Regions from separate parts of the Homo sapiens genome. Here all the other regions are reported to be linked to region 5. The links are microRNA targets in miRTarBase. Many come from high-throughput screens and were not tested one by one. Region 5 holds a microRNA gene; each other region holds the end of a gene's coding sequence.

The links. The annotated mature microRNA hsa-miR-6808-5p reads CAGGCAGGGAGGUGGGACCAUG and lies in region 5 at 2,023-2,044, shown strand. An mRNA with a match to its seed (bases 2 to 7 or 8) in the 3' UTR can be bound and repressed. Matches are read on the target gene's strand: a 7mer-m8 pairs with bases 2 to 8, a 7mer-A1 pairs with bases 2 to 7 and ends in A, and an 8mer does both.
Region 1: the mRNA of SNX22 is a reported target of hsa-miR-6808-5p. Seed matches in the 3' UTR shown: 7mer-m8 at 832-838 and 7mer-m8 at 1,420-1,426.
Region 2: the mRNA of EPM2AIP1 is a reported target of hsa-miR-6808-5p. Seed matches in the 3' UTR shown: 8mer at 4,262-4,269.
Region 3: miRTarBase lists OLFML2A as a target of hsa-miR-6808-5p. Seed matches in the 3' UTR shown: 7mer-m8 at 3,207-3,213, 7mer-m8 at 2,416-2,422 and 7mer-m8 at 2,284-2,290.
Region 4: the mRNA of BCAS4 is a reported target of hsa-miR-6808-5p. Seed matches in the 3' UTR shown: 7mer-m8 at 5,251-5,257.

Annotation. Positions count from the first base shown.
Region 1 is chr15:64,154,242-64,159,241 of GRCh38, forward strand. It overlaps SNX22 (sorting nexin 22), which reads left to right. Exons shown (of 7, transcript NM_024798.3): 7 at 146-3,240. The coding sequence ends at 267. It overlaps PPIB (peptidylprolyl isomerase B), which reads right to left. Exons shown (of 5, transcript NM_000942.5): 4 at 2,484-2,668; 5 at 1,576-1,904. The coding sequence ends at 1,782. Among named protein-coding and RNA genes, the nearest start is that of SNX22, 5.0 kb to the left of the region's middle. RefSeq lists enhancers at 1-170, 1-35, 46-205.
Region 2 is chr3:36,986,044-36,992,511 of GRCh38, forward strand. EPM2AIP1 (EPM2A interacting protein 1) reads right to left here. Exons shown (of 1, transcript NM_014805.4): 1 at 1-6,468. The coding sequence ends at 5,211. Among named protein-coding and RNA genes, the nearest start is that of EPM2AIP1, 3.9 kb to the right of the region's middle. RefSeq lists a silencer at 5,203-5,252 and enhancers at 6,259-6,338, 6,369-6,468.
Region 3 is chr9:124,809,015-124,815,482 of GRCh38, reverse strand. OLFML2A (olfactomedin like 2A) reads right to left here. Exons shown (of 8, transcript NM_182487.4): 8 at 601-5,675. The coding sequence ends at 5,071. Among named protein-coding and RNA genes, the nearest start is that of OLFML2A, 35 kb to the right of the region's middle. RefSeq lists enhancers at 2,269-2,770, 3,272-3,774, 3,775-4,275.
Region 4 is chr20:50,875,808-50,882,123 of GRCh38, reverse strand. It overlaps BCAS4 (breast carcinoma amplified sequence 4), which reads right to left. Exons shown (of 5, transcript NM_198799.4): 5 at 4,947-5,638. The coding sequence ends at 5,516. LOC124904929 (a long non-coding RNA gene) reads left to right here and starts at 6,113. Exons shown (of 2, transcript XR_007067647.1): 1 at 6,113-6,316. RefSeq lists enhancers at 1,743-2,242, 2,243-2,744, 5,403-5,983.
Region 5 is chr1:1,336,491-1,341,725 of GRCh38, reverse strand. It overlaps MIR6808 (microRNA 6808), which reads left to right and starts at 2,018; the gene lies at 2,018-2,076. It overlaps DVL1 (dishevelled segment polarity protein 1), which reads left to right. Exons shown (of 15, transcript NM_001330311.2): 5 at 1-59; 6 at 1,223-1,316; 7 at 1,410-1,479; 8 at 1,549-1,688; 9 at 1,914-1,990; 10 at 2,077-2,144; 11 at 2,287-2,439; 12 at 3,073-3,204; 13 at 3,290-3,457; 14 at 3,543-3,749; 15 at 5,211-5,235. RefSeq lists a silencer at 3,723-3,782.

The sequences.
Region 1 (5,000 bases), not on the chromosome of region 5:
GGAATGCGGAGGCTTCATTTGGGGTGGACAGCTGCTGTCTGCTGCCTTGGCAGGGGCTCCTACTCCCAAGTGGGGGCTGAGCCCATGAGCAGGAGCTCAAGGAGCTGCAGGTCTGAGGCCAGACCTGTTTAATTCTATCCCACAGAGTCGCTGCCCAACGTGGTGGTGAATGGTGTGCTCCAGGGCCTCTACAGCTTCAGCATCAGCCCAGATAAAGCCCAGCCAAAGGCGGCCTGTCACCCTGCTCCTCTGCCACCGATGCCCTGATCAGTCCAGAGGCCTTTGGCTGCCTCCTAAGAAAGTCATGTGCCTCTGTCCTATGAACTCCATATAAGGCTGGGTCCTCCTTTGGCCTGGACCCAGGACTTAATTACCCAGTGCCCAGTTGTGCCACATTCCCACTCAAGGCTCAGAACTTGGCTCGCATTGGTAGCTGGAGGTGGTAGAATTTGTATGCTCTTAGAGCCCAACAGCCAAGGCAGGGTCAAGAAGATAAGTAATAAAAGAGGAAGTCAGCCAGGCGCGGTGGCTCATGCCTGTAATCCCAGCACTTTGGGAGGCCAAGATGGGTGGATCACCTGAAGTCAGGAGTTCGAGACCAGCCTGACCACCATGGAGAAACCCCGTCTCTACTAAAAATACAAAATTAGCCGGGCATTGTGGTGGTGCATGCCTGTAATCCCAGCTACTCGGGAAGCTGAGGTAGGAGAATCTCTTTTTTTTTTTTTTTTTTTTTTTTGAGACGGAGTTTCACTCTTGTTGCCCAGGCTGGAATGCAATGGCACGATCTCGGCTCACGGCAACCCCCGCTTCCCGGGTTCAAGCAATTCTCCTGCCTCAGCCTCTCGAGTAGCTGGGATTACAGGCATCCGCCACCATGCCCGGCTAATTTTTGTATTTTTAATAGAGATGGGTTTCACCACGTTGGCCAGGCTGGTCTTGTACTCCTGACGTCAGGTGATCCACCCGCCTCGGCTTCCCAAAGTGCTGGGATTACGGGCGTGAGCCACCGTGCTCGGCCCAAGGCAGGAGAATCTCTTGAAGCCAGGAGGCGGAAGTTGTGGTGAGCCGAGATCGCGCCACTGCACTCCAGCCTGGGCAACAAGAGTGAAACTCCGTCTCAAAATAAATAAATAATAAAGGAAGAAGTCAGCTGGGTGCAGAGGCTCATGCCTGTAATCCCAATACTTTAGGAGGCCAAGGCAGGAGGATGCTTGGGTCTGGAAGTTTGAGACCAGCCAGCGCAACATAGTGAGACCTGTCTCTACCAAAAAAAAAAAAAAAAAAAAAAAATCAATTTAGAGGTAGGCTATGAAAAAGTACAGATACATCCCTTAACATAGACTGGAGGGTGGTGGCAAGGGGAGCAAATGTGGAGGCCCAGTAGCTGGCAAAGTTTAGAAGCAGGGGGCAAAAGCTCCTGCCTGACTTTTCCTGGGTAGCTCCTGGGTCAAAATTTCAGGCAGGATCCCAGGGAAGGGGCAGGCACCCATTGCCACAGGAGAGTTGCAGGCATGTTGGGATGTAGGCCTAGGGGAGGTGCTGCAGGCTCAAGAACCAGGCCCACACATTATATATTAAAAAAAAAAAAACCCACATTTTTTTTTATTGGTCAGTGTTGGTAGGAGTTTGTTACAAAAGTGAGTCCATGGGCCTGTGGAATGTGAGGGGAGTGGGTCCGCTCCACCAGATGCCAGCACCGGGGCCAGTGCAGCTCAGAGCCCTGTGGCGGACTACAGGGCCTGCACAGACGGTCACTCAAAGAAAGATGTCCCTGTGCCCTACTCCTTGGCGATGGCAAAGGGCTTCTCCACCTCGATCTTGCCGCAGTCTGCGATGATCACATCCTTCAGGGGTTTATCCCGGCTGTCTGTCTTGGTGCTCTCCACCTTCCGCACCACCTCCTGGAAAAGAAAGGTGGAAGCAGGAGGGCATGGTGGATCAGGAGGTCCACCGCTCAGGAGAAAGGCCCCAGCGTATGGCTCAGGAGGGCTAAGACCCACAAGTGATCAACAGCACACAAAACTGGAGGCACCAAAATTCTAACAGACTCCTGGCCAGAGCAGGGAGAATGCAGATTTGACGAGGGGGTACAGGAATTTTGTTCCTTTGAAGTAAGACCCAGGTTGGGCCAAGGGTGAGGAGGAGGAAGAGGGTGACCAGGGCATGTGGCTTCTCAGGGACATTGCGTTCAGCTGCACTCTGTATACCTCAGGGGTGGGACCAGCACGTCACTGAGTGAAGGAGGGGAGGGAGGCTCTGGCAGTTGTGCAGCCTTCCTGGCTGGGCTCTGAGGGGGCTGGAAGAATTTAGAACCTTGGAGGCATGGAGGTACAGGGTTTATTCTGGACAGGAGCACTGGGCTGCATCTGTGGGTTGGGTCCTTTTGGGAAAGGGATGGACACATGGAGCTCCTGCCCTGGGGTCTGTGTTGAATCCCCGGTGAGGATTGCCCAGTAGTAGCCCTTGCTTCCACAACTCACCATGCCCTCTAGAACTTTGCCAAACACCACATGCTTGCCATCTAGCCAGGCTGTCTTGACTGTCGTGATGAAGAACTGGGAGCCGTTGGTGTCTTTGCCTGCGTTGGCCATGCTCACCCAGCCAGGCCCGTAGTGCTTCAGTTTGAAGTTCTCATCGGGGAAGCGCTCACCGTAGATGCTCTTTCCTGGGAAAAAAGACAGAGCAGGTCAGGGGCGCTGGATTGCGCCAAACCAAGCAGACATTCGGGGCCAGGACTGAGGGGGCTTAACCTGTCCTCTGTGCCAGGCTAGGCTGGAGTGGACTACAAGGACATAAAAGCAGCGTCCTTCCTATCTTCTGGCCTCAGAGCCAAGCCATGCTGACTGAGGCCAAGTGGGGCATCAGGCCAGGCTGATGTGGTGAACAGCTCACAGAAGGATTACTTTGAGAAGATAGTTTTGTGGCTTTTAAATAAGGCGCATGTTATCAGCTCCCCTTAGCTATGGCCCAGGCCTGCCACGGAGGGACTTTGGTGGAGGGAAGTGCCGTGCAGGATGCAGGGGAGTCAACAGGGTCGGAACTCTCCAGAAAAGGAGGACTGCTGTGGCTGACCAGCCTGTTTTCCTATGAGCACAAAAGACACAGGCATAGCTGCAGAGGAGAAAGCAGCCAGAGATGTGTGGGGAGGGGCAGAAAAGAGGGGCTGCCCCTTGGATTCTGGAGAGTCAAAGCCTCTTAACAAGGAATGAACAGGAATAAAAGACAGCTGTGAGTGTGTGTGACGCGTCTGTCCACGTGGGGCTTGGGGATATGGTAAGGGCAATCCGGAGTGATCTCTATGCCATTTCAGAGATCCTAGTTCCAAAGCTGCTTCCACGAGGAACACCGAAACCCTTCTTTTTCCCTATCACCCCTTGGAGACTGACACTGTGCATGAGGCCCCAAGAAACTCAGCCAAAAATGGGGTCATTTTCATTTTGTTTTATCTAACACCTTTCAAACATATTTGCATGCAAAACTCTTTTTTCCTTCTCACTGCACCTACCTTCATCCTGTGGTTCCACAGAATGGAACTGAGCTGGGAAACTGTCCTAGACAGATGCCAACCAGGAAGATGTTTCTGATTGGGCAGCAGGTAGGATGACTGAAAACCAAGAATGACCAGACTCTGGCTGGTGGGGACAGGGTGCTTCTGCCTGTGCTCCACCTCTCACCCCCACGCTGGGGAGACTGGACTCTGCCACATGTGCAGTGAGACCTGGCTGGAGTGCTGGCTAAAAGCCTCCCCCATTTGAGCCAACTGTGGGATTTTGATTATAGTTGTTATCCAGAAAACCCCCAAATCTCCATCCTTAGCTCCAGCCACTCTCTCAAGATACAGGGGTTCCAAACTCAAATGGACATTTCTATTTAAACTCAACATACCTTGTCATCTTTCTCTCCAGACCTCAGTTATTCTTTTGACCCCTTTTCCTCTGCACGTGGCTCAGGTTGTCCCTACCCACTCCCCATGTACTTACTCTTTCTTTCCATTCCCACCACCACCGCTGCAGTAGGCGAGTGCTTAGGGTGCTCATAGTGTGAGCCAGAGACTGTTCCAAGCATCTTACATATTTAACAATCCACTCTATGAGGAGGAGCTAACTCCACTTCAAAGATGAAGAAACTGAGGCACAGAGAATAAAAGGAGCCCCAGCAGAGCAACAGCGGGGCTAGAGTTCAGACCAAGGTGGTCTGCTCTCGAATCTCTGCTCTCAGCCACCTCAGGATCAGGTCCAAATCTCCCTGCCCAGGGTCAGTGGCACCAATGCCCCCAGCAGCCTGCCTGCCCTAGCCTCCACATCCTGGATCTGCCACCACATGACTCCCCTGGCACCCCAAGTGAGGGGTCATCCTCTTACTCAGCTCTGTGGCCCTGACTCCCTGCAGGCCGAAGCCCAGGCTGCAGGACATCACCCACCTCTCTGCACTCCGGGTACAGATGTCCTCACCCCACCTTTGGCCAAGCTCCTGCCACAGAACAGCACCGGGCTCATGCCCTAACCCTGCCTCTTTTCTGCCCGTTCAAATTCTCCTCATTGAGGACCCCACTGAAATCTTTCCTCACATCCGCAAGGTCATTCCCCCGTTCCCTGGCCTGAGGGGATCCCTCTGCTTGTCAGCACTTCAACAATGGCTGACTTACTAAGCACTCACTGCATGCCAGGCACTTCACACTCCAGATCTAGCCCAATCCTCATGGCCCCACAACTCTCTCCACCCTCACTGTACAGAACAGGAAACTGAAGCTCCAAGGACTCACTTGCCTGAGGTCACAAAACAAGAAGGTGGCAGACACTGGATCGAGCCCAACTGCGTCTGACTCCACAAATACAGTTCTTTGGTCTCCTTTGTGAGCCTGAGTCCTAAACGCTGCATCATGGCTCACTTGTACATTTTCAGTTGTTGGAAGTAAAAGGGAGCCACTGCCCCATGGGTCTTCACATCCTCAACCCCCACCACAGAGCCCCATAGACACTCATCGAGGAGTGAGCTGT
Region 2 (6,468 bases), not on the chromosome of region 5:
GCTGACACAGAAATTGGTCCCTTGTTTTTTAAAATGCTAAAATACTGAACACTGGCTTAATGGTTAGCTGGCAGGCATTCAGGAAATTGCTATCAGAAGATGGAAGAAATAACTTACACAAGGGTAATTTATATTATGGAAAGGTGAAACTGCCCCTTGAGATAACCTGAAAGGCAGATCATCTACCCTTTACTAAAGAAAAAGACAGAAAAACAAAATATTTTGTAGTTGCTGTTCACTGCACTTGACAAAACGTACAGAAGAGATGAACTCAGAAAAGACTGGTCAGTTTGCAGGCAAAAATGAAAAGGAAGAGAATTCAAATTCAAGTACTTACTGGGTAGGATGAGGCAACATTTTAATATCAAAAAGAAAGATAAAAATGGGAAATCCTTTTACAAATAAATAAAAAGAGAAATCCTTTAGCCAAAAGGTTGATTAAAAGCCAGTTTTGCCGCCGGGTGCAGAGGCTCACACGTATAACACCAACATTTTGGGAGCCCGAGGCGGGCGGACTGCTTGAGTCCAGGAATTCGAGACTAGCCTGGGGAATACAGCAAGACCCTGTCTCCACATAAAAATACAAAAATTAGCTGGGTGTACTCGTGTATACCTGTATTCCCAGCTACTTAGGAGGCTGCAGTGGGAGAATTGCTTGAGCCAGGAAGGCAGAGATTGCATTGAGCTGAGATTGTACCTCTGCACTCCAGCCTGGGTGACAAAGTGAGACCCCGCCTCAAAAAAAAAAAAAAAAAAAAAAGCCAGTTTTGCAGCAAGCACCAAATCACTGGATGACTATGACACCTACTGTTAAGATCTCTGAATGACTTAATATGCCTCAGACTAAAACTCCAACTAAGATTATACTAGTTAATCCCATAAATTGGTCAAAATGGCTTAAGGAAACAGACTAAGGGTGTGGCTTTCCCACCTAAGCCTGAAAAGCCTCAGTTACCCAGAAATTAAGTTCAGAGAGGCATGGGAACAAGAAGGCAAAGGAATACAGCAAACTTTAGAAGTATACATTAACTAGATGTCACTTTTGGGTCATCTCCCTTTGGGTGATAAGGACATTCTGCAGGTGTAAAAACAAGTGAACTGAATATATAGTGACCAGAAGGGCTGAGTCAGTCTTCTACTTTGTTAAATTTACTTACTTTTAAATCCCAGAAGAGCCAAAAATCATCTGTAAAGGAAAGTAGCAAGTAAATAGCATGCCATTTTCTCCTAGTGTTGATGCCTACAAAAGGAAAAATGATTATTAACTCTTAGGCGGCATTATCTTTTTCCAATACTAAATGTAACATTTAGTAAAAACATATTGTTTTAGTTCACTAAGTAGTTGTCTAATCTTTTCCCTCTATATGTAGGTTCCTTTGGAAATTTAAAAAAAAAAAAAAAATATATATATATATATGACACTGTTTACAAAGGGTAAAAAAAAATAAGATTCTATACATGGATATGCAAACTTAATATTACATAGTGGATTTGGTGTGTATATTTGGTTTTGAATCCTGAGTTTACTACTTACTGTGTTTACCAGGGAAAACCGCAATTTGTTATCCTTCTCTCCTTTCATACAACAGAGAAAACCACAATTTGTTTAACAGTCACATAATACATATTTAAGTCACATGCTAAGCACTACACTAAATTCTGAGAATACAACGAGGTCCCTAGTTACAAAGAACTTGTCTTCATTTTTCAATTAGTAATATGTGGATAAAAGTTACCCAATGGACAGTCTAAGGCAGAATGACTGTGAAGGTCAAATAAGACTGTGAAAGAGCTTCAAAAATTGTAAAACACTACACAAATATTCGTTTGTCCAAACATTTATTGAAATGCCAGGCATTGTGCTAAGCACTAGAGATATAACAGTGAACAAGGCTTATATGGTCCCTGCCCTTACAAAGCTTACAGTCTAGCAGTGATCAATAAGCAGTAACAATAAAGTGTGCCAAGTGTATGTCTGGGAAAGAACAGGGTGTATAGGGAATGGATAGTAAGGGCACCTAATCTAGAGGGCATCAATGAAGGTTTCCTAGATGAAGTGGCATACTGAGACCTTAAAGATGAAGATAAATTTGTATTGTACCCTAAGAGCAATGGTGAAAGCAATGCAGTGACATGATCAGTAAGTCTTTTGGAGCAATTTGGTTGTAGTGTAGAAAGGAATAAAAATAAAAAACAGGGAGACTAATAAGGAGGCTGTTGCTATAATTTAGGTAGGTTGATGGCCTGAATTAAAATGGCAGCATTGGAGAATTGGTAAAAAGGACAAATGAATGGTTGGTAGTGGTAATGCCATTTAGTCAAAGAGGAAACATGAGAGGAGGAGCAGGATTGGGGGCAAGATCAATGACATGTAGTGCCTGAGACAGCAAAGAGCATTTGTTAGCAATTAGATACATCAATTAGGGAAGATCTAGAAAGGAGATATGAATCTGACAGTCATTTGCATATAAATGGTAAGGAAACCATGGAAGGAAATGAGATCAGCTAGCGAGCTGACACAGAACAAGGCAGTCTAAAACAAATTTTTTTAAAAATACGAAGAACAGATATTGAAGGGAAGAGGTGCCTGCAAAGACTAAGAAAGCACACCTGGAGATGGTATCTCCTCAAAGCTAAAGTCATCAAGTGTTCAAGTGTTTCAAGGAGGGTAAGACTATTAACAAGGACTTAGCATAGTAGAGCAATTTGAGTGGCAATACGGGACACTGGGAATACAAATCTGTCAAGAAAACTAGTAGGAATGAGCTATAGGACAGTAACTGGTAAGGACCTAATAATTTTTTTTTTAATGTACGTATTTTAACTATATTCACTGCTACAACAGGACCAGTAACAACTATATTTATTTAAAAAAAAAAAGACTGCCATGCAGTTACAGAATTACTTAATACAGAAAACAGTAAAATACACTTTTTTCTTTTTCTTTTTTTTTTTTTTTTTTTACAAACAAGACTAGCTTATAGCAAATTCTCTATAGCTAAGGGTCAATTTAAAATCCTTGGCTTATATCTCCCCCTCACTCAATGACTACATGATGCAAACTAATTTTATTAACACCTTAAGCAAAACATACTGGAATTTCACAAAATGTACAAGATTTCAATATTTAAGGAACTGGGGTTAGAAAGCAGAAGTGGCTTTCAGGTCTTCCAGTCTTTCTCTCAAGTAATAAAGCTCTGCTGTGAATATTCAAAGCTATTGGGAAATTACCGGTAGATTTTTCTGTTTTTTTTTTTCGGTTTTCCACTATGTTGTTTCTCTAGATATGTAAGCTTACTCTATTAACCAAAATCTCAGCTTGACCATTCTTGATAAGTACCTAATCGACATGTAACTTTTTTTCTGCCTTAAATATGTATAACAGGACAGAGCCCTTAAATCTGATTCAATTATTAATTCCTGATTTACAAGTGCTATGGTGAGCTAACAGAACTTATCAATGCCTTTATTGCACTTTACTAGCCAAATTTAGAAGGTTGGAATTAGTCTCTCCTATCTAGTATTCTGTCAGTTTGCCCAGCTTGTACTTTTAATTTTGCTTCTAATGGTAATCTGCCCTATCCCTTGAAATAAAATAATCTACATTTTGGGAGGGCTAATTCTTCATTGTGCCAGGCTGTCCCATGCACTGCAGGGGTGAGTGTCTTTAGGCTTAAATGCCAACAGAAGCCCCTAGTAAATATGACAACCAAAAAAGTGCCCCTACACATTTCTCAGCATCCTCTGGAATGACAGGTTACTGCCTCTAGTTGAAAGCCACTGGCACAACTTTGGTTTTTAAGCTCTTATGCCATTTATTTTAATTGCCCAGACATCAATTCCACCTAAATTCTTAGTCATAGCCTGGTTCCTTGAATTTGCTGGATTAGTAACCACAGATTAAGGTGTTTCAATAGTTAAGACAGGACTTTGGAACAAGAGTTTTTAAATTGTATAATACTTGAGAGGATCTATGAATATAAATTGGGTCCTGTTTATAATTAGTTTTACATAATGAACTTTAAGATTGCCTTTTCATGGTGAACAGAAGTTTGGAAATTACTGTTTTGGCACAAAGCAGATTATCTTAGTAGAAATACAGAATTACTGCAATCTGTGAATAAGACTGCTTTTAAATATTTCTACTTGTGTGCTATCTTACATATAGAATGTGTACGACAGTTCCAAATTTTAGAATAAATCCATTTCTAGCATCTAACAAAATCTGATACTGTATCATTTTAAAACAAAGTGTTTACTTTAGGCAGGATTTTTTAAAATAAAGCAGCAATACCCACGCAGATAAGACAAAAAAGCTAAAATATCTCACACCTCCTAATCCTGGAGTGCAATCTTTTTTCCTCATCGTTTTTGATAGGGCCAAACTTGTGTCTACAGTAAAAAAAAAAAAAAAAAGAATTACTAACTGGCAACCATTAAGATTCTATACTTACCATAGTCCTTTAATAGGCAAGCTGATAAAATAGCCCCCAGTTATTAAAAAAAAAATCCAAGGAAAACCCCCAATAATTAGTCTTATCTCCAAATTGCATGAAGTCTCCTATATCTGAAACTTAAAAATGATTCTAATGACTTCCTCTATCAGTAATGTGTTATCACTGAGGTGGGTGATGGGGAGGGAAGAGGGAAGAAATCTGTCAGTATTACCTTCGAACTCAGAAATGTTTAAAAAAAAGTCTCAAACATTTTGATGGTTAGACAAAACACCTCCACTGTTATGTATGGGCTTCCTTTTTGGAAACTTATGAACTTGCTATGTGAGCTTCTGCAAATTGGTTCAAAAGCACATTTAAGGAGTTGATAATTTAAGACTATATGAATCAGAATTTTAACACTCCATTAAAATAAGAGCTGAAATTTTTGGCATTTATCTTCAGAACACCTAAAAAACAGACTGCAAATTCAACTCACATTAATACTAAATCTCTTTAAAATTAACTATATCATAAAAGACAATGACTTTGTCACTAAACTAAGTTTTAAAAAAGGTGGCATTCTCATGTTTCAGTCCCATGCTGCCATTTGAGATGAAAAAAAAGGCAACTGTCAGAATTTTAATTGTGATCAGTTTGGACGGCTGGTACTTGGTACTTTCTCACAATCCAAATTAGTAAACTTGAAAACTCAAACCAATTTTTGCTTTTAGAATTAAATTCTTGTTGAGTTTTTCAATCTTGTACTACAAAGCCTTATGGATTAGATTCATTTCTTTCTCTCACAAGGTCATCCCAACCGGGCTCCATTTCAGTTGTGGCAACCCGAAACAGGGCTTGGAGATGCTCATCTGTTAATGGCTGACTCAAAGTGTGTTGGTTTCGAGTCAAATATGAAAAAGCCTTTTCACAGATTTGGTTACTATCAAACAAGGATGCCACCTTACAGGCAACCCCTTTGATAATTGGGTAGGATTCAGCAGACAATCCAGCATAAAACTGCCCCAAGTCTTTGATTCTGTATTCATTCCAAAGATTAGTGTTTGCCTGAAGTTTTGTTAGCTCCACCCTCACTGAAATAGGTGCATATTCAGGTTTAAAGTTAAATGGATTTGAAAAAAGTTCTAAGTCCTTTTTAATGAACCTGAGGTCCTTAAAATGTCTCTCAAATTCTTTTTGGAGACGACAGATCACCATTTGATACCTATCAGGATCAAATATTTTTTCATCTTCCTTATTTTGCTGTTTTAGCTCATCAACAACTTCTCTGAGGGCAGGAAAGTCTGTTAGATTTTTTTCCTCAATATGTCTTTGAAATAAATTCAGCTTAACTTCGAAAGTACAAATATGGTCAAAGGCAGCAGCAGCAAAGACTTTACTAACTCGTAATTCTTCACTGAGTTCTCGAAGGTGTTCCATAATGTCCACCAAGAAGCCAAAGTCACAAAGCCATTGTTTGTCTGAGAAGTGGACTGTTGTTGCCCCTACTGAAACCAAGAACGCTTCCATTTCTTTTCTTAGAGAGAATATTAGTTTTAAAGTTTTCCCTCTCCTAAGCCAATTGTTCAGACATCGTCCATTAACCCTTTCACCATGCTCTGATTCAGATTCCGTTAGTAAAGTCTGAAATTCAGGTCGCCTAACGCCTCTGGTCTTAATCAAAACTATCCATTCGGATATGGTATTTATGATCTGATTAACATCTACATCATAGGAGCTCAACAGTTCCAAGTGAAGAAATCCTGAATAATGAATGACATTCCAACAGTTGGGGCTTACGGCCTTTTCTCTCATGTATGAGACGAGTCCTGAGTTCTCACCAATCATCCTCAAAGTATGGGTCGTGGTCAGTCCAACCATTCTCTGCAAGCTAAGCCCTGCTGTCTGCAGGGACTCTAGGATTGCCGACATGAGCGCACCAACACTGAAATGATGAGTCAGGTTGATTATGGTCAGAAGATCTTCTTGCACCTCCAACTCAGGGCCTACACCGCGGATAAAGACCAGGAGGTAG
Region 3 (6,468 bases), not on the chromosome of region 5:
CTCCCATCCACCTACCCCATTCATTTTTCCACACCATCAGTTCCTTCCAATGCCTGATCATGAATTTTTTTTTTTACTTTTTTATTATTATTTTTTTTTTTTTGAGATGGAGTCTTGCTTTGTCACCCAGACTGGAGTGTGGTGGCGCCATCTTGGCTCACTGCAACCTCCCAGGTTCAAGCAACTCTCCTGCCTCAGCTTCCCGTGTAGCTGAGACTACAGGCACGTGCCACCATGCCCAGCTAATTTTTGTATTTTTTGGTAGACAGGGTTTCACCATGTTGGCCAGGCTGGTCTCGAACTCTAGAATATATACAATATGATCTTCTCCATTTTAATAGGAGAAAGGTCAGACCCCAAGCAAATTCCCCAAGTTCGACCCCTGGTTTGACAGATTCTAAGGCTTATGCTCTTGCACAGTTGTTTGTGAGTGTGCACTCCTGTGCTGTGTTGACCTCTAGTAATCCACCTACCTCAGCCTCCCAAAGTGCTGGGATTACAGGTGCAAGACACCATGCCCAGCCGACAAATTATTTGTTTTAAAAGTTATTAAATGTATGTGTTCTGATAAAGATATGGACCACAGCATTTAGTCCAGACTTTTAAATCAAACCTTTGATCATGTCTTTATTTAGATATAGCCCATCTTGTTGCAAAACAGATATCTCAGCAACTTACAAAAATAAAGTACAATAGCATAAAAATAAAAAGATTAGGGTAAAGGTAAAAGCAGAAAGCTAGAATGAAGCGAGTCTAGTAGGAGACTCAGCACAATTGGAAAAAAAAGGGTCTCGAATTTGACTTTGAGCTTCCCAGCGGCCAAAACAAGGAAGAAAACATGACTGGTTACAAGATTCCTACCAACAGTTAGTCTGGGACTCTGGTACAAAAACAGACCTGGTTTATACCTTGACTCTACTGCCTGTTGGAGACGTGACCCTGAGCAGGTTGCTTAAGCTCTCTGAATTTGAGGCTCATCACCTGTAATGGGGAGGAATAATGCCGGCCTCGGGGCTCCTGGGGGGGGATTAGGGGTAAAGCTCTAGAAGGGTCTTGTCCTCACTAAGCTGCATGTTCTTAGCTGTAAGAGGGAGTTCACAGCCCTACCCTGAGCGGGAGAGAACTTGACCAAACCTGTGGCATAAAAGAGGTGGGGCTGGATTCCAACCCAGGGCTCCCTAACTCCCAGCCAGGGCTCTCTGCCAGCCATCCAGTGCCATGTCCTGTCATGACAGCGGCTTCCAATGCTATCCCAGAGTTAAAGACGCTTTGGAACACATGGGCTTTCAAGAGCCCTCAAATCATTCCCAGGAAAATCCCCCAGCTCCACCTTTAGCACTGCCCGCAAGGCGGGAGCTCCATTCTCTACCCCACCGCAGAGAAAGCCGATTAAATGTAAGGCCTGGACATCTCTAGGGGGAACGCAAGAGGTAGCCAAAGCCCCTCATGAGTCACGTTGTTCAGAAACACCCGAGACAGCTTCCTTTGCCTTCCTTTGCCTTTGTAGACGAGGTCAGCAAGAAGACCTGGTCCCCCTCAGTCCAGGCCCTCCCTTGTTTGAAGTACCTTTTGCCAAAAGCAACAAAGCCCAAGACAGGTAAACAAACAAACAAACAAACAACCTCAAAAGCTGTTGGGGATCAGGTTTCCATGACAGCTCACAAGTGTGCAGTTGTGGGCTGGTTCCAGTTCCCTACAAGAAAAACCTTTCCCTTCCTCACCAACAGGACAACATCCAACTGTCTTAGAATTTTTTCTCTGTAAATTTATACTTGACTTTGTTCTAAATATGACTGGAGGCATCCACTCCTTGGCTTGGCATTCAGGCTTTTTATGAGCTGGCCCCAACCTCCTTCTTGGGGCTTCTCTGTGGATGCAGTTTAGGGATAAAAGCAACAGCCTCCGTTTCTGGAGCTGCCACTGGAGTGACAGGCTGGTGGCAAAGAACACGCACTGACCAGCGCCTGGAACAGGCTGAGCTGCTGTGTGAGCCTGGGTAAGTCTCTTCTCCTCAATGTCCTCATCTGTAAAATGAGGACATTCAGGATACAGACCTCCCACTGTTGTGAGGCTGCAAGGATACGCCCGTGGCAGGCTTAGCACAGCTGGTGCTCAGTTAATGATGATGGTTTTCTTACCTGATTTTGAAACCTGGTTCTCCACTTAACTGCCTATGTGACGAGCGACCTAACTGTTCTAGGCGCCAATGTGACCATATGTAAAATGAAGAAACTGGCCAGGCGTGGTGGCTCATGCCTGTAATCCCAACAGTCTGGGAGGCTGAGGCAGGTGGATCACCTGAGGTCAGGAGTTTGAGACTGGCCTGGCCAACATGGTGAAATCCTGTCTCTACTAAAAATACAATTAGCTGGGCTTGGTGGCAGGGCCCTGTAATCCCAGCTTTTCAGGAGGCTAAGGCAGGAGAATCACTTGAACCCGGGAGGCGGAGATTGCAGTGAGCTGAATCGCGCCATTGCATTCCAGCCCGGGCAACAAAAGCGAAACTCTGTCTCAAAAAAAAGAAAAGAAAAGAAAAAAGAAAAAACTGACCATACCCACCACATAACCCACTTACAAGGGTATGAAAACAGAAGAGGCCTAGTGAATGTTTGTTTGGCGGCTGTGGCCAGGATCGTTCCCCCAGAATGCAATGCTGCTTGCCCCTTAACTTTTAAAAATCAGCCTATTCTCACTTTCCTTTTTTTCAGATTAATGAAGAAAGGGGGGCCTTCTCCTTCTTCTCACATGGTTGGGCTATGATGTCATGAAAGACACAGTCTTGTAAAACCCACACCCAGGGCCAAGGGAGATGCCGGGGCCTCGAGGCCCCCTGGTGAGTCTGGAAGAGGAGCCTGCAGTGGTTAGTTGGCCGGGGGTGGGGGCTGGATGTGACCATGATGAGTCAGGCCTGGCTGGGCTGGTTGTCATCATTCCCCTGTATTCCAGGGGTGAGTTAGAGCTTAAACAAAACAGCACCTGACAATGCCTGAAAGAAGTGTATTCTGCACAAAAAGCATTTGCTGGCCAGGCGCAGTGGCTCATGCCTGTAATCCCAACACTTTGGGAGGCTGAGGCGGGCGGATCACCTAAGGTCAGGAGTTCGAGACCAGCCTGGCCAACGTGGTGAAACCCCTGTCTCTACTAAAAATACAAAAATTAGCTGGGTGTGGTGGTGGGTGCTGTAGTCCCAGCTACTAGGGAGGCTGAGGCAGGAGAATCGCTTGAACCCAGGGGGCAGAGGTTGCAGTGAGCCGAGATCGCGCCACTGCACTCCAGCCTGGGCGACAAGAGCAAAACTCCAACTCAAAAAAAAAAAAAAAGGCATTTCTTTACACTCTTACACTCTTGGCTGTGCAGCTGACCTTCCTAACATGGCAACTGGTATTCAAACATACAGACATCCAGGGAGCTGGCATTGGGACAGAATGAAGGCAGCAAGGGCCAGGGGGCAGGTGAGGATGAGCAGTAAATGTCCTTCACAGGTGCTGGGGTGCCTTCCCAGGTAGGGCAGCCTCCATGTGCGGAGAATAAAGGATACAGACAGAACCCTTCTGGAAGGAGATCGGCTGTGCCCAGCTCCCAGTGTGACACTGAGCTGCTCTCTAAACTTTTCTGAGCCTCTTTTCTCTTTCATGAAACAGGGAGTTGGGCTAGAAAATTTCTTTCCAGCTCTAAAAATACTGTCTAAAAAAGCAGAAGAGGGGCAGGCTTGAAGGCCTCGTCCTCTGGGCTGTGTGGGTCTGAGGCTCTGGGGAGCCACCAGTGGCCCCGGGCAAGGTGGCCCCCGTGCATCCTCAACCCAAGTCCTGGGTCGAGCCAGGAAAAGTCCAGTCTGCAGACCCTCAGTTCTTCCCTCCCCGTTCCCACCCTCTGGTTCTCTCCTGCAACCAGAAGAAGGCCTGATGCCTCCCCTGGACCCAACTACTCACACCATGTCTTCTGCAGCCCCCAGGCTGCTGGGCCAGCCTGCCCAGTGACCAGGTCAGGGCTGGCAAGGAAGAGGGAAACTGTGCCATCCTGGCACCACACCAGACTTGGGCCTAGGGTCTTATTCATGGCAGACCCGGAGGTATCCCTGAGTGTGTAAAGGTTGTGGGTTTGAAAGCCCAGAGAAAAAGGACAAGGCGGACTCCAGGCCCAAAGGCTCTGGGATGAACCAGGGAGGGGACCCAAGGCCTGACTATGTGAACAACGCCAGTGCTTCTGGGTGGAGAGGGAGCCTCAGCTCAGCTCCCCACCCTGGCAGAGCTGCCGGCTGCCTTCTCAGCTGCTGCTGCAGAAACAAATGACGGCACTGATGAAGAATAAGAGAAAATAAAAATGAGCATAGAGCAGACAGGGGCCTTGGAACAGAGGATGGGATTTTCTCTCGGGGTGCGGTTTCTGCTCAGCAGCTAGGTGACGGTAGAGGTTTGGAATGTGGCCGGACAGCGGGTGGGGTGGGCTGGGCTGAGGGGGCTGGCCAAAGACAAGAGACAAGGACATTGGCTAAGGGGCCCAAAGCCCAGGGCCACCAACAGCTCAGCCAGAACAGGGCCCTAGGATGGCAGGCAGAGCCAGGGCCTCCACCCCACACCAGTACACTGGCCCTAAAGACCTCTGGTTCTGAGTGGCCCTGGGAAGGGAGACTGGGTTGAGAGAACAAGGGAGACCGGGGAGATGGGGGAGGGCAGGGAGGGGAGGGCGTGGTGAAGTCTCCTCATCCCTAAAATGGGGCTGTCCTGAGAGCACAGCCTGCCTGATCACAACTGAGGTGTTAGGCAAGGGACGGTGCCTCTCTGAGCCTGTCTCCTCGTCTGTTAAATGGGTTCATGATCTCTACCTCCAAGGGAGGTGCTAGGAGAATCAAACGGGTAAGTGTGTGGGAAGTGCTTGGCACGGTGCTCTGCAAGTGGAAGCAAGTATTACCCACTGGGTGCTGAGGAAGCTCAATCCTGGTGACCACCTCATGCCCAGTCCCAGCCCTGGGCTGGCCCCCAATAAATATTTGCGGACTGGGTCAGTTGCAGGAGCTGCTGTGCAAAGCCCCTCCCGCACTGCTGCCCCTCTCCGGGGAGCACAGGTCTCCACTCAGACCACGAAGTGGAGGGTGTAGGTGAGCTGGTGGCCATTGTCCCAGGCGTACAGCACCCGCTCCTTGGGGTTGTAGTCGATCTGGGTGGTGTAGGCGTGCTCGTTGAGGAACGGCAGCTGGGGGCGTGCGTCGGTGCCCGTGTGCGTGTCGAAAGCGTAGGCGACCTGGCCTTCCTGCTGGTTGTACGTGTCCACGGCATACAGGATGCCGCACACCAGGAAGCAGTTCCCGTAGGAGTTCCGCCGCAGCCGTGTCTTCCACGTGGTCTCCCGGTGCACGGAGAGATCGCCGGGGTCCAAGCGACTCAGGACGATCACCTCGGGCTGGGCCTCATCGCGGTCGTCCACGGCGGGGTAGATGACCCACAGGCCGCTCTCGTCCACGGCAAAGTCAATGTCCGAGTGTCCGCGCCACTTCCAAGGTGTGGTGTCCTCATATACCACGTCGGGCAGCAGCGCCCAGGAGGCCACGAAGCGCTGCCGTAGGTCGTACTTGATGATGTTCTTGGTGAAGGCGCGGTTGTAGTAGAAGGCGCCCTGGTACACCACGTGGCCTGTGCCGATCCAGTTGTAGGGTAGCTTGTACATGTTACTCCAGCGGCCTGCAGGCGAGGGCGATGGTCACCCCAGACCTCCCGAGCAACCCCAGCCCACCCACATCCCCTGAGCCCACCAAGGGCTCTCAGTGGCCCAGTAAGTGACTGATACCAAGCATGTGCAGTGTGCCTGGAGCTGGGATGACATCTTATTATGGCACAAGCGTCTCCTGAAGGAGGTCTATCGTCATCCCATCTGCTTAAAAAAAAAAAGGCTCAGAGGATCAAGGTCGCCCAGCTCTGGAATGGCACAGCTAGGATTTAGACACAGGGTGACATCAGCCCCATTCTTTGTCTCCAGGCCTTCGTCCCTGCTGTTCCTCTGTTAGGACTGCCATTCCCCAGGCCATCTGCTTGGGGAATGCCTGCCCATCTTTCAGAGCCCCAGGCCAATGTCACCTCCTCTAGGAAACCTTCACTGACCTCCCTAGCCTGAGTGAGGGGCCTCTCCTCCAGCCTCCCATAACCCTTTGTCTTTTATCCCCCCAGGACACGTCTGTAGCAGCCAGACAGAAGCCTTCATCTTGATACTTATCACTGGCTTCCTCCACCACCCTGTGCGCTGCTTGAGCAGAAAGCCGGCCAATTTTGAGCTAGCGGAGGAAGGATTTCAGTTGTTCCAGGCCTTTATTTTTTTCATATTTTTCGAGATAGAGTCTCTCTCTGTCATCCAGGCTGGAGTGCAGTGGTGCGATCTCGGCTCACTGCAACCTCTGCCTCCCAGGTTCAAGCAATTCTCCTGCCTTAGCCTCCCAAGTAGCTGGGATTACAGGCGCCTGCCACCACACCCAGCTAATTT
Region 4 (6,316 bases), not on the chromosome of region 5:
GCAGCCTCAACCTCCTGGGCTCACTCAAGCGATCCTGCTGCCGCAGCCTACTGAGTAGCTAGGACCATTTCTAATTTTGTTAGGTATGCCAATTGCCCCCCCATGAGAATGGTGTCCCACCATCAATGTACAAGAATATGTTTCTTCAAAATATCACCAGCAAGACCAGGCACAGTGGCTCAAGCCTGTAATTCCAGCACTTTAGGAGGCTGAGGCAGGTGGATCACTTGAGGCCAGGAGTTTGAGACCAGCCTGGCCAACATGGCAAAACCCCATCTTTACTAAAAACACAAAAATTAGCTGGGCATGGTGGTGCGCACCTGTAATCCCAGCTACTTGGGTGCCTGAGGTGGGAGGATCATTTGAGCCCAGGAGGCAGGGGTTGCAGTGAGCTGAGATCACACCACTGCACTCCAGCCTGGGCAACAGAGCAGACTCTGTCTCAAAAAAAAAAAAAAATTCAATAGTGTCATCAAAAATTTTAATCCTTGCCAGCCTGAAATGTGAAAAATCTCAGGGTATTTTTCCATACTTATTGGCATACATTAAGGTTGAGTATCTTTTCATGTTTTGCATTTTCTGTGAAACTCCTGTTCATAGCCTTTGCCTGTTTTGCTACTGTTTCCCTTTTTTGTAGGTGACATTTTTTAGGGAGATTATCCCTTTGTAGCATGAGATGCAAATATATTTTCCCAATTTGTCATCTATCTTTTGAATTTGCTTAGGATTTTGTTGTTTTGGGATTTTTTGGTTGAGTTTTCCGTTGGTTTTGCCATGCAGAAGTTTAAAAATTTTATATAATCAAATTGACCTCTTTTATGGCTTCTCGATTTTGTACACTTCGCCAATGTTTTTAACCTATTTCTTCAATAGATTCGTTTTATTTTACTTTCTAAGACAGGGTAACACTTTGTCACCCAGGCTGGAGTGCAGTGGCACAATCTCAGCTCACTGCAGCCTCAAGTTCCCTGGCTCGAGCAATCTTCCCACCTCCCACCAAGTAGCTGGGTCTATAGGCAAGCACCACCATGCCTGGCTAATTTTTCTATTTTTTACAGAGAAGGGGTTTTGCTATGTTGCCCATGCTGGTCTTGAACTCCTGAGCTCAAGCGATCCACCCACCTTGGCCTCCCAAAGTGGTAGGATTCAGGTGTGAGCCACTGCACCCGGCCAATAGATTCATTTTATACATTAAGCTCCTAATCGATTTACAATCCAGGTGTGCTGAGTGAGGTATGGAGCTCTATTTTTTCCAGAAGTTTACCCAATTGTCACAACATGAAAACATCTTAAAACAATTCAGGGCAAACCACACATTTCTGCCAATCAGATACAACCCCATGGGCTGCTACCTTGAAACCTCTTGCTTTGGTGAGCACGAAGTTCACATCCGCTGGGAAAGTGGGAAAGGGGGTTGACCGAAGAGCCTTGCTCTTGGGAAGAAATCTGCAGTGACCTTTCTACTGGTGTCCCTGTCCAACATCAGCCACAAAAGAAAAAGACTGGCAGGCCTCGGTGGCTCACGACTGTAATCCCAATACTTTGGGTGGCCAAGGTAGGAGGATCGCTTGAGCCCAGGAGGTTGAGACTAGCCTGGACAACATAGCAAAACCCCGTCTCTGTTTAAAAAAGAGAAAGATCAGATCACCCTTTCCTAGGCTGCAGTTACCCTTACCAAGGGGTTAGAGGCCATCAATAGTCAGCAACCGAGGACATCATTGACTGGACAATGGAAATGTCAGGCACTTTGCTTTAATGAGGACGCACATGAAGTCACCTGGCACAGGGACAGTGGAGCCGCTCAGAGGACTGAGGTTAGGGGTTGGTGATGGCAGGGCGCAGTGTCCCGGCCTTCCTTCTCCCCAGATGTTTCCAAGCGTCCCTTAAAGCTCATTGTTTGGCAGTGCAAATCCTAGGAACTTTGGAACGGCTACTTCCAGTTCACTTGTCACCTTTTCCCCATAGATTTCCTGTGCAACCTCACCCCTCCTAACAGGACAGGGAAACCCAGAGAGAGCAGCCTCCATTCTCCCATGACTTCTAACTCTGACACGTAAGGGCAGTCCCTGAGTCACTCGCTGTTCAGGCCCTCGGATGCCGCTGGTCAACTGAGAAACGCAGGACAATCAACCCTTTCCCCATCACAGCCCGGGCCCTGCAACAGCAGCCTCCCATTACTGAGAGCCCCTCGCCAGTGTGCCCAGCATGCACACAGCTCACCTCATGTCACCCTCACCACAACCCATCAGACCAGAGCCATCCTCATGTCTTACCGCAGGGGCAGCTGGACTCAGAGAGAGCAAGTGAAAAGCCCAGCTCACACAGCTAAGAGGCATGGGAGCGGACAGTGCTGCCAGGCAGGCTAACCTCAGGGCCATGCTCCTAGCGTGGGGCCTGTGGGTCCCTGCTTTAGGACACTCAACGTTGCTGCGGCTTAATCACATGGGATTTCCTTCCAACTCTCCCTGGCCCCTGTTTCAGGGGCTGGGAGGAGAAAGAAGCCTGGGAGTGCCCAACACTCAGCAGATACTCACCCTTCCGGAAATGAGTGTCCTCAACTGCTTGTCTAAAAAATTAACATTAGCTTTCTCCTTTTTCTTCTTTTTTGAGATAGGGTCTCGCTCTGTTGCCCAGGCTGGAGTGCAGTGGCACGATCTTGGCTTGCTGCAACCTCCACCTCCCAGATTCGAGCGATTCTCCTGCCTCAGCCTCCCGAGTAGGTGGGATTACAGGGGTGCACCACAGCACCTGGCTAATTTTTGTATTTTTAGTAGAGATGAGGTTTCACTATGTTGGCCAGGCTGGTCTCGAATTCCTGACCTCAAGTGATCTGCCCACCTTGGCCTCCCAAAGTGCTGGGATTACAGGCGTGAGCCACCTCACCCGGCCAACTTTCCATCCAACGTGTGCTCTCCCTGAGCACACTGGGGCATGCAGAGTGTCCAAGCTCCCTTCGATAAAAACAGTCCCAGCCAATACAACACAGCCATGGGAATGATCTACAGTGACACAGCAACAGTGACACCTCCCAAGGTAACATCAAGCCGGTGAGGCCAGAGACAAGAGATGACACACCGTAGGTACACATCCCGTGTGTCCTCTCTTTATACAGAGCACAGAAACAAGAAACTCCAGTCCATATGGTTAGATGTCAGTATGCTGTCAGCCTGGGGTGGGGGTGGGTATGGGCATGGACCAGAAGCGGGCATGAGGGGGCTGCTCAGTGCTGATAATGTTGGTTGCTCAGTCTGGTGAGGCTTAAATAGATACACTCAGTTTGTGAAAAATTTAGTGAACCACTTAGGCACCCCTTTCTGTAATATAAATTATACTTCAATAAAGGTTTGTGCCAACACTACATTTTGGGAGGCCGAAACAGGAGGGTCCCCTGAGCCCAGAAGTTCAAGACCAGCCTGAACAACATAGGGAGACCCTGTCTCTACAAAAAATAAAACAAATTTGAAAAGTTGCCAGGCATGGTGGTGCACATTTGTGGTCCCAGCTACTTGGGAGGCTGAGGCAGGAGGATCACTTGAGCCCAGGAGCTTGAGGTTTCAGGGAGCCATGATCACACCACTGCACTCCAGGCTGGGTGACAGGTGTCTCATTTAAAGAAAAAAAAAATTGTAAAAGTCACCTCAATAAAAAAATGCTGACCGGGCATGGTGGCTCACACCTGTAATCCCAGCACCTTGGGAGGCCAAAGTAGGAGGATCACCTGAGGTCAGGAGTTCGAGACCAGCCTGACCAACATGGCGAAACCCCGTCTCTACTAAAAATACAAAAATTAGCTGGGCGTGGTGGTGTGCTCCCGTAATCCCAGCTTCCTGGGAGGCTGAGGCAGGAAAATAGCTTGAACTCGGGAGGCGGAGGTTGCAGTGAGCTGAGATCATGCCACCGCACTACAGCCTGGGTGACAGAGTGAGACTCCATCTCGAAAAAAAAGAAAAGAGAATAAAAATGCTGACTTTTCCAGAAACAAGGGGTCTACCTATATCTCTGAATTCCAAAAATTGTCTAAACTATTTCCCTGCTTTTCTGTTTTTAATTTTTAAAAACATTTTTAGCCAAGATCTCACTTGGTTACCCAGGCTAGAGTGCAGTGGCACAATCATGGCTCACTGCAGCCTCAACCTCCCAGGCTCAAGCAATCCTCCCACCTCAGCCTCCCAAGTAGCTGGGACCACAGATGTGCACCAGCACGCCAGGCTAATTTTTGTATTTTTGGTAGAGATATGGTCTCATTATGTTGCCCAGGCTGGTCTCAAACTCCTGGGCGATCTGCCTGCCTCGGCCTCCCAAAGTGCTGGGATCACAGACATGAGCCGCTGCACCTGGCCTCTACTCTATCTTGCCAGATTCATTATTTTAGGCTTCCTTGAAAAACTTTTTTGGGGTGTGGGGGACAGGGTCTTGCTCTGTTGCACATGCTAGGGTGCAGTAGAACAATCACGGCTCACTGCAGTCTTGACCCTGTGCATAAGCGACCCTCCTGCCTCAGCCTCCCAAGATGCTGGGATTACAGGCATGAGTCACCTTGCCCAGGCAGATTATCTTGAAATTCTAATGCAGATTTACAGTTCAGTCCTGTATGTGCATAGGGGAATTATGTGTGTGTTCTTGGCTCTTCGAGGAATTCCAGAAATACCCATTGCAGGTTGAAGCCACAGTGAGAAATCCGGAGTGTTAGGACAATAGCAGGAAACTCATCTGCATGGGAAGAAATGTGGGTAAACAAGCCTTTGAAGACCCTGGGGGTCCTAATGACCTCTGCACTCTTGCTGGAAATCCAAAGGCCGGGACTACCCCTCCCTCAGCTGGAGCCTCATCAGCAGGTGCCCAGGATCAGGCCCTCGCAGGTGAGGCACAGGAGGAACCTTCTAGAAAACACTGCACAGGTGAAAAGGAAACTATCACTCCCCGTCATTCTCACACCAGACCAGGGCTGAGCTCTTGACACCTTTATTGGAAGGATCCTCAAGGCTGTGGGCACCGAGGTCTGGAGGCAACAGAAGCAGCATCCACCCACCCACCACAGTGGCAGAGCACACCCCGTGCAAAAACCCATCACAGAGAGAAGGACCATGGAGCCCCTGCAAAGCCATCATGGAGAGAAGGAAAGTCCCCACTGTCCATCAGCCCCGGCCAGGCCTGGTCCCTCAACCCCTGTAGAACCCCAAGCAGGCCGATGTGGGAGGCATCACCACACGTGGGTTCCAACTGCTTCTCCAAACCCTGTGGTCTCACATGAGGCAGGGAGGAAATTTGAAAATGGCAGCAGCCTGGGCACGGAGGCTCCTGCCCATAATCCCACCACTTTGGAAGGCCAAGGTGGGTGGATCACTTGAGCCCAGGAGTTTGAGATCAGTCTGGACAACATAGTGAGACCCCATCTCGACATTTTTTTAAATATTTTTAAAATATAAAATAAACAGCAATACAAAGAAAAAACCCCCAAGCTGCAGTGTGTACACAATGTCACTTTCCAGCGTTCCTGATGGGAAGACCACAAAGCTCACAAAGGCCGAGGGCAGGTGCGGGGGTGGTGCTGTGCTTCCCCGGCGTCCACAGGAAAATAGTCCTCCGTCCTATACAGTGTGGGCAGCTCGTACGTCACGGGCACCGGTGCAGGTGACTTCTGGAATGACAAGAAATGAAGCTCTATCAGCGATTTGGATCCACTTGTTCCATGACCCAGGAATTCCCGGTCTACAAGTTCATCCTGCAGGACTCACACATATGACCAAAGACTCTGAGCTCCTCTGACAGCACTGCCTGTGACAGCCAAAGCCGGCCACCCAAAGGGACCAAGGCATCCATGTCAGGCCCTCTCCACAATGGAATACTCTGTAGGCATCAAGAAGAGCCAGGCAGCCCAGGCGCAGTGGCTCATGACTGTAATCCCAGCACTTTGGGAGGCCAAGGCAGGCGGATCACTTGAGGTCAAGAGTTTGAGGCCAGCCTGGCCAACACAGTCAAAGCCTGTCTCTACTAAAAATACAGAAATTAGCCGGGCATGGTAGCGCGCACCTGTAATCCCAGCTACTTGGGAGGCGGAGGCAGGAGAATCACTTGAACCCGGGAGGCGGAGGTTGCAGCGAGCTGGGATTGTGCCACTGCACTCCACCTAGAAAACAGAGTGAGACAATGTCTCGGGGAAGAAAAAAGAAAAAGCCAGGCAGATCAATATGTTCTGGCAGAGGAGGACTAAGAAAGCAAGGTGAGAAGGGTAGACATGTGACAAAGGGACCTATACCGACACGTGACAGCTCTGCAGGGCCATCTCAGAGCCTGGGTACAGTGGCTGTGGTTGGTG
Region 5 (5,235 bases):
AGCAGCGAGCTTGAGTCCAGCAGCTTTGTGGACTCGGACGAGGATGGCAGCACGAGCAGGTGTGTGGGAGTGTCTGTGGGCGTGTATGCCTGTGTGCCCACTTGCAAATGTCTGTACATGATGTGCATGTGTCTGCATGAGGTGTTTTCACATTGCACGTGTGTGCGTGTGTGTGCATGTGTGTGCCTGCAAATGTCTGTGTACATGATGCACGTGTGCTTGTGCACGTGTTCCACATGAGGTGTTTTCACTGTGCACGTGTGTGCGCGCCTGTGTGTGTGCCCGCGTGCAAACGTGTACATGATGCACGTGTCTGCTTGTGCATGTGTGTCTGTGTGAGGCGTTTTCACATTGCGGATGTGTCTGTGCATGTACCTGTGTGCAAACGTTTATGTACATGATGCGCATGTCTGTGTGTGCATGTATGTGTGTGTGAGGTGCGTTTTCACAGTGTGCACGTGAGCGTTTTCACAATGCACGCGTGTGCGCAGGTGTGTGCATGTGTGCGTGTGCGTGTGTGCAGGTGTGCGTGTGCAGATGTGCGTGTGTGCAGGTGTGCTTGTACAGGTGTATGTGAAGGTGTGCGTGCAGGTGTGCATGTGCAGGCGTGCGTGTGCAGGTGTGTGCAGGTGTGCCTGTGTGCAGGGGTGCGTGTGTGCAGGTGTGCATGTGTGTGCAGGGGTGCGTGTGTGCAGGGGTGCATTGTGCAGGGGTGCGTGTGCAGGTGAGTATGCAGGTGTGCATGTGTGCCTGTGCAGGTGTGTAGTGTGCAGGGGTGCGTGTGTGCAGGTGTGCATGCGTGTGCAGGTGTGCGTGTGTTCATGCGTGCGTGTGCAGGGGTGTGCATGTGTGCCTGTGCGCAGGGGTGCATGTGTGCAGGGTTGCGTGTGTGCAGGTGTGTGTGCAGGTGTGTGCATGTGTGCCTTGTGCAGGGGTGCGTGTGTGCAGGTGTGCATGTGTGTGCAGGTGTGCATGTGTGCAGGTGTGTCAGTAGTGGATCTGGCTACATGTGTCTGTGCCCAGTTTGCCTGTCTCTGGGATTTTCGTGTGTGCTCATATGCATATCACGTGTGCAGGGCCTGGGGCGTGGACGTCAGGCACTGAGCCTGCTTTGGAACAAGCCTGGCCTAGACCCCCGATTCCCACTCAGTATTGGGGGAGCGGGTTCCCACCCCCCTACCCATGTCTCCAGCTCCTCTGAGCTCTGACAGTCTGTTCCCAGGCTCAGCAGCTCCACGGAGCAGAGCACCTCATCCAGACTCATCCGGAAGCACAAACGCCGGCGGAGGAAGCAGCGCCTTCGGCAGGCGGACCGGGTAGGCAGCCGGGTGGAGCAGGGCGGGGCTGGGGAGGCGAAGTCAGTGTCGGGCAGCCCCGTGCCTTTTACACACGCCCCCTCTCCTCCATAGGCCTCCTCCTTCAGCAGCATAACCGACTCCACCATGTCCCTCAACATCGTCACTGTCACGCTCAACATGGGTGAGGCCTCGGGGCGAGGGTTGGGGGCAGGGGCAGGGGCTTGGCCGCGGCTCATGGCTCTTCCTGCAGAAAGACATCACTTTCTGGGCATCAGCATCGTGGGGCAGAGCAACGACCGTGGAGACGGCGGCATCTACATTGGCTCCATCATGAAGGGCGGGGCTGTGGCCGCTGACGGCCGCATCGAGCCCGGCGACATGTTGCTGCAGGTGTGTCTGTGGGGGCTGCGGGGTGACATGTAGCTGCGGGTGGGTCCGTGGGGACTTTGGGGTGACGTGCGGCTGCGGGTGGGTCTGTAGGGGCTGCTGGGGGACATGCGGCTGCGGGTGGGTCTGCGGGGGCTGCTGGGGGACATGCGGCTGTGGGTGGGTCTGCGGGGGCGGTGGACTGAGCTGCACATCCTGCCTGCACCACCCTAATCCCCACCCCTGCAGGTGAATGACGTGAACTTTGAGAACATGAGCAATGACGATGCCGTGCGGGTGCTGCGGGAGATCGTTTCCCAGACGGGGTGAGGGCTGGGGGCGCTGGAGCGGGAGGGGCCAGGCAGGGAGGTGGGACCATGGGGGCCTTGCTGTGTGACCACCGTTCCTGCAGGCCCATCAGCCTCACTGTGGCCAAGTGCTGGGACCCAACGCCCCGAAGCTACTTCACCGTCCCACGGGGTGAGTGGCCCTCGGGGCACACGGGGCGGGATGGGGAGGGGGCGCCTACCTAGCCTGAAGGCCTCTCTCCTCTGTGCCCTGCACCCTGCCCTCCCACCCTGTCCATCTGTCCGCCTGTCATCGCCACGTGGCGGCCACCCAGCTGACCCGGTGCGGCCCATCGACCCCGCCGCCTGGCTGTCCCACACGGCGGCACTGACAGGAGCCCTGCCCCGCTACGGTACGAGTCCCTGCTCCAGCGCCGTCACGCGCACCAGCTCCTCCTCACTAACCAGCTCCGTGCCTGGTGCTCCACGTAAGTGGCAGCTCCTGAGGGCCCCAGCAGAAACCGAGGCTTGGAGGGGGCGTCTCTGCCAGCCTCCAGCATGGCCGCCTGTGGCCGTCATGGGGCTGTGACACGTGTGTGTTGCCTGTCCCCAACTCCCTGCACAGACGTGTGCACAGGCACCCGTGCCCACCTTGTGCAGCCCATCCTGCTCATGGTCTGTGTGTTGGGAACAGGGGATGTACGTAGGGCCCCTATGCGGGGAGCACCCACGGCGTCAGAGGCAGGGGCCAGGTCTCCATTCTGCTTCCTGCCATTAACACGACTAACAGCCTGCGCTCTCGGGTGGGGCATGCGGGGAGGGGAAGGGGCCTGCCCTGTTCTCATTACTTCCTGGTCTGCAGGGTGGGGTGTCAGCCCAGTTTGTGCCTAGGATCCTGATGAAAAGTGTCTGTAGAAGTGGGAGACTAAATGTCCAACCCCCCTGCTCACGCCCCAGCCTCACGGGGGTGCATCCTGCAGTGGGCCGGGGCCCTGCTGTCACGCACCGTCCAGCTTGCGCCCTGGCGCAGGCTCTGCCCAGAGGCTCCCCTGGGGGTGCAGGGCCCTGAGTCCCCCGCCTTCAGATGCTGGGGCTGAAGCGGGGCTGTCTGTGCTTTGCAGAGCTGGAAGAGGCGCCGCTGACGGTGAAGAGTGACATGAGCGCCGTCGTCCGGGTCATGCAGCTGCCAGACTCGGGACTGGAGATCCGCGACCGCATGTGGCTCAAGATCACCATCGCCAATGCCGTCATCGGTGAGTGGCCGTCCCCGCGGGCGGATAGTGCCAGGGGCAGGGCTGCTTGCCTCGAGGCTGCGGGCTGACCGCTGGTGCCGGCCAGGGGCGGACGTGGTGGACTGGCTGTACACACACGTGGAGGGCTTCAAGGAGCGGCGGGAGGCCCGGAAGTACGCCAGCAGCTTGCTGAAGCACGGCTTCCTGCGGCACACGGTCAACAAGATCACCTTCTCCGAGCAGTGCTACTACGTCTTCGGGGATCTCTGCAGCAGTGAGTGGGGGCTTCGGGCTTCAGGGCGGGGGGGAGGGGAACGCCGGAGGCCCCTCCGCGGCCCTCACCTACCCTCCCCCGCCAGATCTCGCCACCCTGAACCTCAACAGTGGCTCCAGTGGGACTTCGGATCAGGACACGCTGGCCCCGCTGCCCCACCCGGCTGCCCCCTGGCCTCTGGGTCAGGGCTACCCCTACCAGTACCCGGGACCCCCACCCTGCTTCCCGCCTGCCTACCAGGACCCGGGCTTTAGCTATGGCAGCGGCAGCACCGGGAGTCAGCAGAGTGAAGGTGAGAACGCCGCCCCTACCTGCCCTTCCCCGGCTCCGCCCCCAGCTCCGCCCCACTCCACTGCTGCTCCGCCCCCAGTTCCACCCCACCCCGCTGCTGCTCCACCCCCAGCTCCACCCCACCCCGCTGCTGCTCCGCCCTGCTTCTCTGCTGACCCCAATCCCATGCTCCTGCTGTGTACTTGGGCCCTGGGTGGGCTCCTTCTGGAAAAGGCAAGTGCCAGGGGGATCCAGGAGCCAGTGTGAATGGGGAGGACAGGGAAGCGTCTCACACAGGGGCAGCCTGGACCCCACCTCATCTGGGTGGGATTGGGATGAGGGGCCTCCAGGAGCCTGGCGGCCTGGGCGGCTGTGCCTGGTAGGGGTGGCGGCTGGTGGTTCTCCTATGGTAGAGGCAGGAGGCCCTGAGACCATGTGGCCATGGGCCATGTGACAAGGACAGGGCAGGGGTGGCCAAGGAGTCTGACAGGGTCACTTTCTAGGCCCCAGGACACAGGAGGGTGGCAGCTGCAGCCCGGGTAGGGAGCCTGACGTGGATGGTGCCGTGCATCCTAGCCTTGTGCCCCTGGCTGGGGTGTGTTTAGGGGCCGGGGATCCAGAGTGTTCCTGAGGTGTTGCCTGGTGGAGCAGAGGCCCCAGTGGGTGGGGTTGGTGAGGCCAGCAGGGGCGTCTGCAGGCCAGGGAGGGGTGCAGGTGGCTTCGTGGAGGGCCCAGGAAGGAGGGCGAGAGAGGAGAGGCGGCCAGAGGGTGTGGGACCGCAGAGAAGCCACGCTGGGTGTCTACTGACCCTCGACCGGCGCTTGCGCCCACTTCAGCCCCGCCCAGCCCGCGGTCAGTCCCCACTGGTGGCGGGTGGGTGCTGGGCAGGTGCCAGGCAGCCGGGCGTGTAACTCGTGCTATCCCTTGTCTTGTGCTAAACAAGCCTTAGACTGAAGGACTAGCGGAGCGGACCTTGGGCCGGTAAGCCAGGGTCCCGCCCGGGGTCCCTCAGCATGTCCCCAGCCAGCCACGCCCTCCAGCTCCCACTGCGTCTTGGGAGCCCAGGACAGGGCTGAGCTGAGTCATCCGTCGGCCAGGGTCCTGGGCCGGGGGGACAGTGGGGCCTTGGGTGGGGAATCCAGGATGGCCACGGGGGCACCGGGCATGAGGGGCCCTCGCTGGCACCTCAGTCTTTCAGCCGCAAGACCAGGCCCTCAGCTCAAGCATCGGGGTGAGGTGTGGGGGCGCCCAGCTTGCCCCAGGACCCTGCCTGCCTCCCACTGCCCCCACCAGCCCATGCCTGCCGCAGCTGCCCCTGCGACCCTGGGGGTGCCGGCCCTGTCCTCGCGCCTGCATGGCTGCCCCACCCACCCGTCCTGCACGGGCCACCGTTCCTGCCCGGTCACCTGGCGGGGGCGGTTGTTCTGGACGTGGCCGGGCCTGGTGCTGACAGGCTCCTTCCCCATCCTGTTCTCACTCCCAGGGAGCAAAAGCAGTGGGTCCACCCG